Linked DNA regions of Homo sapiens: region 2 is linked to region 1. The links come from fine-mapping of genetic effects on gene expression. A gene starts in region 1. The other region holds a variant in brackets. All regions are shown on one strand. Distances are from middle to middle.

Evidence for each region.
Region 2: its variant is fine-mapped to the expression of NHLRC4 in monocytes (TOPMed, PIP 0.95).

What each region holds. Positions count from the first base shown.
Region 1 is chr16:563,736-569,094 of GRCh38, reverse strand. It overlaps NHLRC4 (NHL repeat containing 4), which reads right to left and starts at 2,090. Exons shown (of 2, transcript NM_001301159.2): 1 at 2,020-2,090; 2 at 1-1,624. The coding sequence starts at 1,047. The coding sequence ends at 676. It overlaps PRR35 (proline rich 35), which reads right to left. Exons shown (of 3, transcript NM_145270.3): 2 at 4,719-5,359; 3 at 3,566-4,421. The coding sequence ends at 3,788. RefSeq lists enhancers at 1,766-1,815, 1,764-2,659, 3,555-4,451.
Region 2 is chr16:232,320-237,678 of GRCh38, reverse strand. FAM234A (family with sequence similarity 234 member A) reads right to left here and starts at 2,858. Exons shown (of 13, transcript NM_032039.4): 1 at 2,822-2,858. RefSeq lists silencers at 2,576-3,035, 3,116-3,165 and an enhancer at 2,898-3,441. The variant C/T (reference allele first, on the strand shown) is at 2,561.

The DNA of each region.
Region 1 (5,359 bases):
AATGAAGGCCCAGACAGCTTTCATTCATGGGGACGCGGAAGAAAAGGCATCCAGGGTTCAGCCAGCCATGGGCCTCCAGACACTCCAGGGTTGCCTCCCCCTTACCTCTGCCAGGCCCAGAGAAGCTACTGGAGGCTCAGGACTCTAGGTCCCTCTGAGGTTGGGGACATTTAGGGGCCACACCCCTGCCCCAGGCCGCCCCGCCCAGCCCAGCCCAGCCACACCCTCCCTGCCTGTCTGCCCCCGATTAGGAGGCCTGGGCAGGGGCACCTGGTGGGAGAGTCTGCCTAGCTGTGTGCCGGCAGCTGGCCCAGGATCTCAAGGCTTCAGCTGCCAGCCCCAAAGTCCAGGCACAGGGCCTGAGGGGGTGTGGGGGGCATGAATGCAGGGGCCAGGGCACTGAATGGGGACAGCAGAGAGCAGCCCTGGCTGGGGAGGCTGCAGGCCTGGCAGGGGCAGCCTGGGAAGCAGACTCAGGGCTGCTCCTGAGATCCGGAGCCTCACCAGCAGGAGAACTCGAGCCAAGCCCAGGGCCCAGCCCAGGTGGTGCTGGCATCAGGCAGGCAATGCCCATAGCCTGGAGGCTCCACCCATCCTGAGGGTTCCTCCCGCGGTGATCCAAGGGCCTGGGAGCTGGCCTCAGGCACAGGAGGGCTGCTCCAACCCAGCCTCAGGTCAGGCCAGCTCCTTGAGGCCCTGGTACACCTTGATGGAGTTGTCCTTGGCATCAGCCACCAGGAGCTGGCCCTGGGGTGCACAGGCCACTCCCAAGGGCTGCCCAAGCCCCTCTGACACCAGGCAGATGGGTGGCCCAGCCCGGGGAAACAGGGTCACCTGGCGCCTCTGCTCGTCTGCCACAATAACATTGCCCTCTGAGTTGGAGCAGATGCCCGCTGGGCAGCCGAAAGTGTGCCCCGTCCAGCCCCCCAGGGAGCCCAGGGGTTGGCGGGCACTGCCAAACAGCCTCACATCCCCAAACTCCTCACTCACAGCAAGGCCCCCATCAGGCCCTGGGCCCACCCAGCAGGGGCCCTCCAGACCCAGCATGGAGGCTGGGGCCAGGGGCTCCCAAGCAGGACCCAACGAGAAGCTGTGCACAGCCCCAGGCAAGTAGTCCGTCACCAGGAGGCGGTTGAGGGCATCCACAGCCAGCCCTCGGGGAGACAGGAAGGTGCCCACTGTCACCCAGTGGCCCCCGGGGTCCCGGGCTGTGTGCTGGAGTGCATGGACAGCCCCATGGATGGGATCGCTGACCACCACAAGCCCTGACGCTGTCACAGCCACGTCCTCTGGAACGAAGGCCCCGCTCCCCGGAGTGCGGCAGGGCAGGAGGCAGATGGGGCGTCCCTCCAGATCTAGCACGTGGACACAGGGTGCAGCCCCGGCCGTGAGGAAGAGCAGGCCATCGGGGGAGCAGTGCAGGCCCCGGGGCCCTCCCACAGCCCCTGCGGGCACCCGGATCCACCCAAGCAGCCGGAGCTGCCGGGAGCCCGTGGAGTCTCCAGGTGGGTCCAGTGTGAGGTGCAGACACCTGGAGGCCAGAGTCCAGTCAGTCCGAATCACCGTCTCAGCTTCTCTGCAGCTGGGTCACGCTTGGGGCTGCAAGAGAGAGAATAAGGCCCCACTGTGTGTGGGAATGGCAAAGTCACTCCTCCAGTTTCTTCCTATGAGGCCGGGTCCTCCTGGTCCTGAGGGTCTACCTGGCCACCAAGCCCAGCGGCCACCCTAGTGTCTAGGTGCCTGGGACTTGAGTCTGGGAGACACATGACCCGTGGAGCTCGCTGTGGGTTTTCCCCTGAGCCCCAGATGAGCTCATGGGCCTCAGACAGATAAGCAACATTTCTCAAATCCATCTGCCTGTGGAACCCCTTTCTACGGCGGGGGGGCGGTCACCCACACACAGCCCTTCTACCCGAGCCCCTAGGTCAGGGAGACTTCTGACCCCTTAGGGGCGAGGCAGCCTATTCCGAGGGCCTCCACCTGCCCCACCGAGAGAGGCCGGGGGGAGGGGTCTCTTACCTGGGCCCTGTCTCGCTGGGCCCTGCTTCGGGGCTGGGTGGCTGCAGCCTCTGTTGTTGGAAACTAGAACTGGAGGAAGTGGGAGGAGCCACTGGCAGGGACGCAGCTGGGCCGGGTGGAGGAGGGAGAGTGCAGTCTCCGGCCTTGGCCCCTGAAGCTTCTATGAAAGAAAAACCAGGTCCCCTGAGGACTCCCCATGCTGTGGTGTTCCTGCCTCCGCGCCTTGTTGCAGGCTGCGCCCTCTGCCCGGACACTATTCCCACGTCCCCTACACGGCCAGATGCCATGCAGCCCACCCCCCTCCAGGGGTCCCCCATGGTCCCCCCACAACCAGCAAGTTCATTACTCCAAGTGGCAAGGCAGCCCCAGGCTGCCACCCCCAAGCAGGGTCCTTGGGTCTGGACCACAGGCGGGTGACCTGCTGGCTGAGGCACCCTCCATGAGGCCTGTCCTGCTCCCCACGGGTGACAGCGAAGGAGGTCGTGTCTCCACACCTGGGAGACGGGTGCTGTTGCCCCCAGCAAGGCCATGCTCACCTGTCTGCTCAGTGGGGGTGAGAAACTGAGGTGCAGTGGACATATGGGGTGCAGTGGACATATGGGGGGCGGGGGCTGAGGACAGGGAGTCTCCCTCAGACTCGGGACTTGGGAACAGTTCCTGGCTGCCCAGAGCCCCCTGCAGCCCCTCCAGGAAGCCTCTGGGTAGAGGGGCCCGGCTGGGACCTGTCCCCACAGCACTCCGCGCCTGGCCAGGCAGCACCCCAGCTCTAGCTGCCCCGAGGCAGGGTCGGGGCTGATGCTATCTCCCTGGTAGTTAATGGGGCCGCTGCCAGCCTGCTTGGACTGGCCCCAGCCCGGCTGGACGCAGGCAGGAACTGCTTCTCCTCCTGGGGGGGCGATGTGGGCTCCAGAGCCCATTCCAGGGTGGGCGTGGAGGGTGTGGCCAGCTCTCCCAGGAGAGAAGTGATTTGCTGTGGGGGTCCCGGGTGCCCCTCCCTGTCTGCCCATCCCCTGCCCGTGGGAGGGCCAAGCCAGGCCCTGCTGGGAGGGAGGCAGTGAGCTGTGAAGGCTGATACCTATCACGGCTGCAGGGGCTGGCAGGGGCCAGCAGAGCCCACGCTGGGTGAGCAGCCTCCAGCCACAGAGCCCCGGGGCCACCGTTTAACCGCAGGAGAGCTGATATGAGCGCGGCCTTGCTGGATTCAGAGGCTAGAGGATGTTCAGGGGTCCGTGCCCACCCCCGACACACCAAGACACAGGCCGAGCAGCCCAGTCCACACGCCTCTCCACCCCCGACACACCAAGACACAGGCCGAGCAGCCCAGTCCACACGGCTCTCCTGGCTCAGCTCCCGTCGCCGATGTCCCGCCCCACCCCCAGACCCCAGCCCCGCGGGGAGGGCCCAGCCCACAGGAGAGGGCCGAGTCTGAAGACAGAGGCCCAGCAGGACTGCTGCCCACCCAGGCCTCCCAGGCCAGGACACTTCCTTAGGGGGGTGTCCAGGTGGCTACACTAGGGCCCCAAAGGAAGGAGGCACAGACGGCGTGTGTGAACAGTTTCTGTTTTAATGTCCACAATTGTGATCAATAAATAACTGTGACCTCCAGTGTCCCTGTGTGGCCCCAGGGACAAGCGTTGGCCACGGCCCGTGGGGGTCTATCCACATGCATGCGGAGGCGGGGCAGGTCCCAGGCAGGTGAGGGGCAGGGGCTGCAGGAGAGGGGCCGGCATGCTGCAGGCAGAGACAGTCAGACCTCAGGCGCTGCAGGTCAGACCTCGGCGCCCTGGGGGCTCTGCAGGCCACAGACAGCCTCAGGGGTCTGGGAACTCCTCGTCGCAACACAGGTGCCCCAGCCACTGCCAGGAATGACAGGGTCATCTGGGGCTGCGAGGGGGAGCCCTGGGGGTGGGACGCTGGAGTCGGCCTCACACTTGGTGGTGTGGCCAGAGAAGGGTTGGGGCGCTGCAGGGCCCAGCATGCCGGGTGGCTCGGGGGTGCCCCCGGTCAACACGGGACCCAGCTCGGGCCGCCCCCACGCCTCTCCAAGAGCCTGGGGCCCCTTGGCGGGCGCACGTTTCACAGAGAGGTCGAGGGGTGCGTCTGGCGGCCTCACGGCCTGCTCCAGCGCCTGGTGAATGGTGAGCAGCTCCAGGCGGATCTTGCCCAGCTGCTCCCGCAGGGGTCTCGGGGCCAGGCCCCCCGCGGGCCCCAACTGTCCCAGGCGCTGCTCCACCCTGGCGTAGTCACCGAGGGCTCGGGTCAGGTCCTCGCCCACATGCTCCGGGCTTCCTGGCACTGGGCCCCGTGGCTGCAGGGGGAGGGGGCCCTCAGGGCCGGGGGTCTCAGGGCCGCCTGGATCCCCGTCCTCAGGCCACAGCATCACAGAGGAGCCGGTGGGCAGGCTGTGGGGTGGAAGCTGGTCAGGAGGCCGCACTGCCCCCACAGCGCCCCCGGCCCCTGCCCCTCTCCCCTCACGGCCTCTGCCCTGTGGCCCCAGCCTAGAGCCTAGGCTCTCCTGGAGACCCCGAGGACCCCCGCGCTGGCTCTCGGGTCTCAGTTCCCCTCTGTGGCCTGGAGCCCACTTTCCCAGCGACTGAGCTCAGGACGGACCCCAGCCGCCATGCCCAGCCGCCCAACCGCCATGCCCAGCCGCCCAGCCCCTCCGTCCACCCCAGGAACCGGGAGCCCAAGACGCCCACCTGCTCCGGGAACAGAACCTTGTCAGGCTGGGGGATGCCTTCGGAAGCTCCAGCCTGCTTCCCAGGGACAGCCTCCTCCTGGGGTCACTCTGGGCTGCCCGCTCCAGCTCCCCCTCCTGCCCTGGGTCCCTGGGGGTGACTCGGGGCCAGGGCCCCAGCCCTGGAACTGGCACCTTCAGCAGGCCAGGAGCCGGAGTCCCAGAGGGGCTCCTGGGGGAGACAGGGGCCTTGGCAAGGGCAGCTTTGCCTGCTGGCAGCCCCAGAGTGTGCTCCAGAAGCAGCGGGTAGTACAGGCGGGGGGCCGGGGTGGGGCGCTGAGGGGGCTGCACGGCTGGGAAGGCCGTGGCCGGGGGCAGCAGGGGGCTGGCCGAGGCCAGGAAGGGCACATGGGCTGCAGCGGCCAGTGAGGGCCCCAAGTAGGAGAAGAGGCCGGGGCTGAGCGGGTAGTTGACGCCCAGCAGAGACAGGTGGAGGCTGTGGGCCTCAGGGAACTCCCCTGGGGCAGGCGGGGGATAGCAGGGGACGCTGCCCTCAGGGCCTGCTGAGGCCATGTCCCCCGCACCCACGCCCCTTGGGTCCCCTCCCATCCCCGGCTTCCACGACTCAGGCAGGAGCCCACTGGGGCCGGGACCCTTCCGGGT
Region 2 (5,359 bases), 330 kb after region 1:
CACTTTCACTCCGAGATCACTTGCTCTAAGGGAAGATAATTACCATGTGAGGACATGGGCCCTAAGGAAAGTTCCATGATGCAAGGAACTGAGGGCTCCTGCCACCAGCCAAGAGGGAACTGAGGCTTCCAGTCACTAGCCTTGTGAGTGAGCCATCTTGGAATCAGATCCTCCAGCCCTGGTCCAGCTTTTATTTTATTTGTTCTTTTTAAATTTTCGACCTCTAGAAAAAACAGAAAAGACTCCATCCAGCTTTTAGACACCTGCAGCCCCAGCCAACATCTTGGCTGCAACTCCATGAGACCCGAAGTCATAATCACCCAGATAAGCCACTGATCAATTCCTGACCCACAGAAACTGTTGGATAATAAATATTCGTCACTTTAATCCATTAAACTTTGTGTTGTTACAAGCAGCAGACAACCATTAGAAGTCAGCAGAATGGAAGCAAGGAGCCTGAAAAGAAAAAGAAGGGGTGGGCATGGTGGCTCACACCTGTAATCCTAACACTTTGCGAGGCCAAGGCAGGAGGACTGCTTGAAGCCAGGAGTTTGAGACCTGCCTGGGCAACACAGTGAGAACCCATCTACATATTTTTTTAAAAAAATACATAAATAAATAAACAGGCTGGGCGCAGTGGCTCACACTTATAATTCCAGCACTTCAGGAGGCCAACAAAGGAGGGTTGCTTGGGCACAGGAGTTCAGGACCAGACTGAGAAAGAGAGACCCCATCCCTACAAAATAATTTATTTATTTATTTTATTTTATTTTTTTGAGACAGTCTCGCTGTGGCCCAGGCTGGAGTGCAGTGGCGCGATCTCGGCTCACTGCAGGCTCCGCCCCCCGGGGTTTCCGCCATTCTCCTGCCTCAGCCTCCCGCGTAGCTGGGACTACAGGCGCCCGCCACCTCGCCCGGCTAATTTTTTGTATTTTTAGTAGAGACGGGGTTTCACCGTGTTAGCCACGATGGTCTCGATCTCCTGACCTCGTGATCCGCCCGCCTCGCCCTCCCAAAGTGCTGGGATTACAGGCGTGAGCCACCGCGCCCGGCCTATTTATTTTGAGACAGTCTCGCTATGTCTCCAGAGCGTAGTGGTGCAATCTCGGCTCACTGCAACCTCTGCCTCTCGGGTTCAAGCTATTCTCCTGCCCCAGCCTCCCAAGTAGCTGGGACTACAGGTGTGCGCCACCACACCCAGCTAATTTTTATATTTTTAGTAGAGACGGGATTTCACCATGTTGGACAGGATGGTCTCGATCTCTTGACCTAGTGATCCGCCTACCCCAAACTCCCAAAGTGCTGGGATTACAGGCATGAGCCACTGCGCCCACCCAAAAAAAATTTTTAAGAAAAATAAATATGGTGGCACATGCCTGTAGTCCCAGATACTCAGGAGGGTGGAGCAAAAGGAAAAAAAGAGGGCCAGTTGCGGTGGCTCACACCTGTAATCCCAGCACTTTGGGAGGCCGAGGCGAGTGGATCACCTGAGGTCAGGAGTTTGAGACTGGCCTGGCCAACATGGTGAAACCCCTACTAAAAATAAAAAATAAAAAAAATTAGCTGGGTGTGGTGGCGGGCACCTGTAATCACAGCTACTTGGGAGGCTGAGTGGGGAGAATCGCTTGAACCCGAGTAACTGGGATTACCGGCACCTGCCACCATACGCAGCTAATTTTTTTATTTTTAGTAGAGACGGGATTTCACCATGTTGGCCATGCTGGTCTCGAACTCCTGACCTCAGGTGATCCGCCTGCCTCGGCCTCCCAAAGTGCTGGGATGACAGGCGTGAGCCACCGCGCCGGCCCAGCAAGCTCCATTTTTTATTTATCTAATTTACTATCTGTACCCTCCAGTAGAATAGAAGCTCCTTGAGGACAGGAAGTTCTTTCGTGGAGTACTATATCCTTAGCTCCTACAACCATCCCTGGTTCCCAGCAGACACTCGGAGAGTATTTGTTGAGTTATTCTGCTCTAATTGGATGCAGACTGAAATTGCAATAAGGGAAGTAGTGTAATCTGATGCTGGCGCCGTAAAGACACCGGCAGCCAGTACATGGAAGGGAGCGCGTCACAGCCTCCTCAGCTGGAATCACAAGGTTTAGAACCAGAGAGTAAGTGAAATTGCCTACCCTGATATCCTATCAGTCTGTCCAAGGGCAAACTCTCTCCTTGACAACTCTCGGCCAACGAACGTAGGGGAGAGCCAGGAACGCTAATCCCAGTGTTTTCCTCCCATCTAGCCTCTGTTTTGTGTTCTATGCCTGAGTCCCTCCCACAGACGAGCAACCTCGGCTGCGCTCGGGGAGCTTTCCCGGGGTGCCGGACGGACAAGCTTGCAGACAGCGTCCCGAGAGAGGACACGCCTCTCCGACCCCCGTGAGGCTTCTCATCCACATTCTTCCACCATAAAAAAACACTCTCAGGCAACCCAGGCGGCACCAAGAGCGAAAGCGACCACGGCCGGCTCACCTACGCTGCGCCACGGCGGGGAGCTCCCTACCGGGAGGTAAAACCCCGCTTTGAGGAACATGTGGGCTTGTTCTGAATGCCACTGAAA[C/T]CCAGGCTGCGGCAATGGGGGAAACCCGAAAGAATCAGCCTCCAGAGGCGCTGCTGCCGACCCGCTGAGGGACTTGGGGCCCCGCCGCAGCCTCCCGGCCCGCACCCGACTCGGGAAGGCGGAGGAGCTAGGGGGCAGCACGGCGGGGTCCTCCAGGGGCCGAGGGACTGGGGAACCTGGGGGCCGGGGTCCCAGAGCGAAGGGGCGGCCTGCGGCGCCCCTGCGGCGTGCACGCGCGAGTACGAGGCCGCGCTCACTCACCTGCCGCCGCGGCCTCTCACCCGACCGCGCCGCTGGCCCCGCCCCCTGGCGTCACTTCCGACCAGCCGGGCGGGCGGGGGCGGAAATGCGCAGGCTCCGACCCCGCCCCACCGCCATGCTTCGGTTGCTCGGCAACGGGGATCTTGGGCGCTGCCTCCGCCGGGAACCTGGCGGTGTCCTGTTTGTCGCTGTCGCAATGGATGCTGAACGTCCTCGCCCCTCTTCGTTCCCGTCCCCCCTCCGTCCTCGCTCCTCTCCGTCCTCTTTCCCCTCCTTCTCTGCGTCCTCGCTCCCCTCCTCCTCCTCTCCCGACCTTGTCCTCTTCCCGCCTTCTTTCTTGACGTCGACCCCCGATCTGCGTCCTCGCCCCCGCTTCCGGGTGCTCTCCCCAGTGTTTCTCCTCTTTGACCACGAGGAGAATTGCTGGCACTGAGGATGCGAATTTTCGGCCTTGAAATACGGTGCCAGGGCCGGGGGCGGTGGCTCACGCCTGTAATTCCAGCACTTTGGGAGGCCGAGGCGGGCGGATTACAAGGTCAGGAGATCGAGACCATCCTGGCTAACACTGTGAAACCCCGTCTCTACTAAAAATACAAAAAATTAGCCAGGCGTGGTGGCGGGCGCCTGTAGTCCCAGCTACTCAGGAGGCTGAGGCAGGAGAATGGCGTGAACCCAGGAGGCGGAGGTTGCAGTGAGCTTAGACTGCGCCACTGCACTCCAGCCTGGGCGACAGAGCCAGACCGTGTCTCAAAAAAAAAAAAAAAAAAAAAAAAAAAAAAGGCTAGGGGCTCATGCCTGTAATCCCAGCACTTTGGGAGGCCGAGGCAGGTGGATCACCTGAGGTCGGGAGTTCAAGACCAGCCTGACCAACATGTATAAACCCAGTCTCTACTAAAAATCCAAAATTAGCTGGACTTGGTGGCGCGTGCTTGTAATCATAGCTACTCGGGAGGCTGAGGCAGGAGAGTTGCTTCAACCTGGGAGGCAAGAGTTTGCGGTGAACTGAGATCTTGCCATTGCACTCCAGCCTGGGCAACTAGAGTGAAACTCCGTCTCAAAAAAAAAAAAAAAAGGATGGGGTCTCCCTCTGTCCCTCAGGCTCAAGTGCAGTGGCGGGATCACAGCTTACTGCAACCTCTGCTTCCCAGGCACAAGTGATCTTCTCACCTCAGCCTCCGGAGTAGCTAGGACTACAGCTGTAAGCCACCATGCCCAGCTAATTTTTTTCCTTTCTTGTAGACATGGGGTTTTGCCATATTAACCAGGCTGGTCTTGAACTCCTGGACTCAAGTGATCTCCTGCTTTGGCCTCCCAAAGTGCTGGGATTTCAAGCATGGGCCACTGTGCCTGGCAGTTGTCTGATTTCTAGTAACTGTGGCAGTTTGGTAGGTGCGTAATTCAGATGATTTAATTGCTTTGTTCAAATGGCCAATTGGAAGCAAAGTCATGCCTTAAAACATTATTTAAAACTTGTCAGCCGGGCACAGTGGCTCATGCCTATAATCCCAGCACTTTGGGAGGCCGAGGTGGGTGGATCTCAAGGTCAGGAAATCTAGACCATCCTGGCTAACACTGTGAAACCCCGTCTCTATTAAAAATACAAGAAAATTAGCCAGGCGTGGTGACGGGCGCCTATAGTCCCAGCTACTTGGGAGGCTGAGGCAGGAGAATGGTGTGAACCTCGGAGGCGGAGCTTGCAGTGAGCTGAGATCGCGCCACTGCACTCCAGCCTGGGCGACAGAGTGAGACTCTGTCTCAAAATAAATGAAAACAAAACTTGTCTAACCGTGTCTGGACTTTTGATGCTTCTAGCCCATGAACAGTCTTTGTTGTATTCTTAGAGTAAGTCTTTTTTCCCCCTTCCAGGGCAGCAATCATATTAAATTATCATTTGTGAAATGATTTTTTAAAATTTAAATTTTATTTTTTAATTAATTAATTTTTTTGAGGTGGAGTGTCAAAATAGACCACTCCCGGCCTGTTTTTTTTTTGAGATGGAGTCTCCCTTTATCGCCCAGGCTGGAGTGCCGCGGCACAATCTTGGCTCACTGCAACCTCCGCTTCCTGGGTTCAAGTGATTCTCCTGCCTCAGCCTCCTGAGTAGCTGGAACTACAGGCGTGTGCCACCACACCAGGCTAGTTTTTTTGTATTTTTAGTAGAGACAGGATTTCACCATGTTGGCCAGGCTGGTCTTGAACTCCTGACCTTGTGATCCACCCACCTCGGCCTCCCAAAGTGTTGGGATTACAGGCGTGAGCCACTGTGATCGGCCTTTTTTTTGGCCGGGGGGAGAGGGAGTTTTGCTTTTGTTGCCCAGGCTGGAGTGCAATGATGCATTCTCGGCTCACCGCAACCTCTGCCTCCCAGGTTCAAGCAATTCTCCTCCCTCAGCCTCTCGAGTAGCTGGGATTACAGGCATGCGTCATCACGCCTGGCTAATTTTGTATTTTTAGTAGAGATGGGGTTTCTCCATGTTGGTCAGTCTGGCCTCAAACTCCTGACCTCAGGTGATCGCCTGCCTCGGCCTCCCAAAGTGC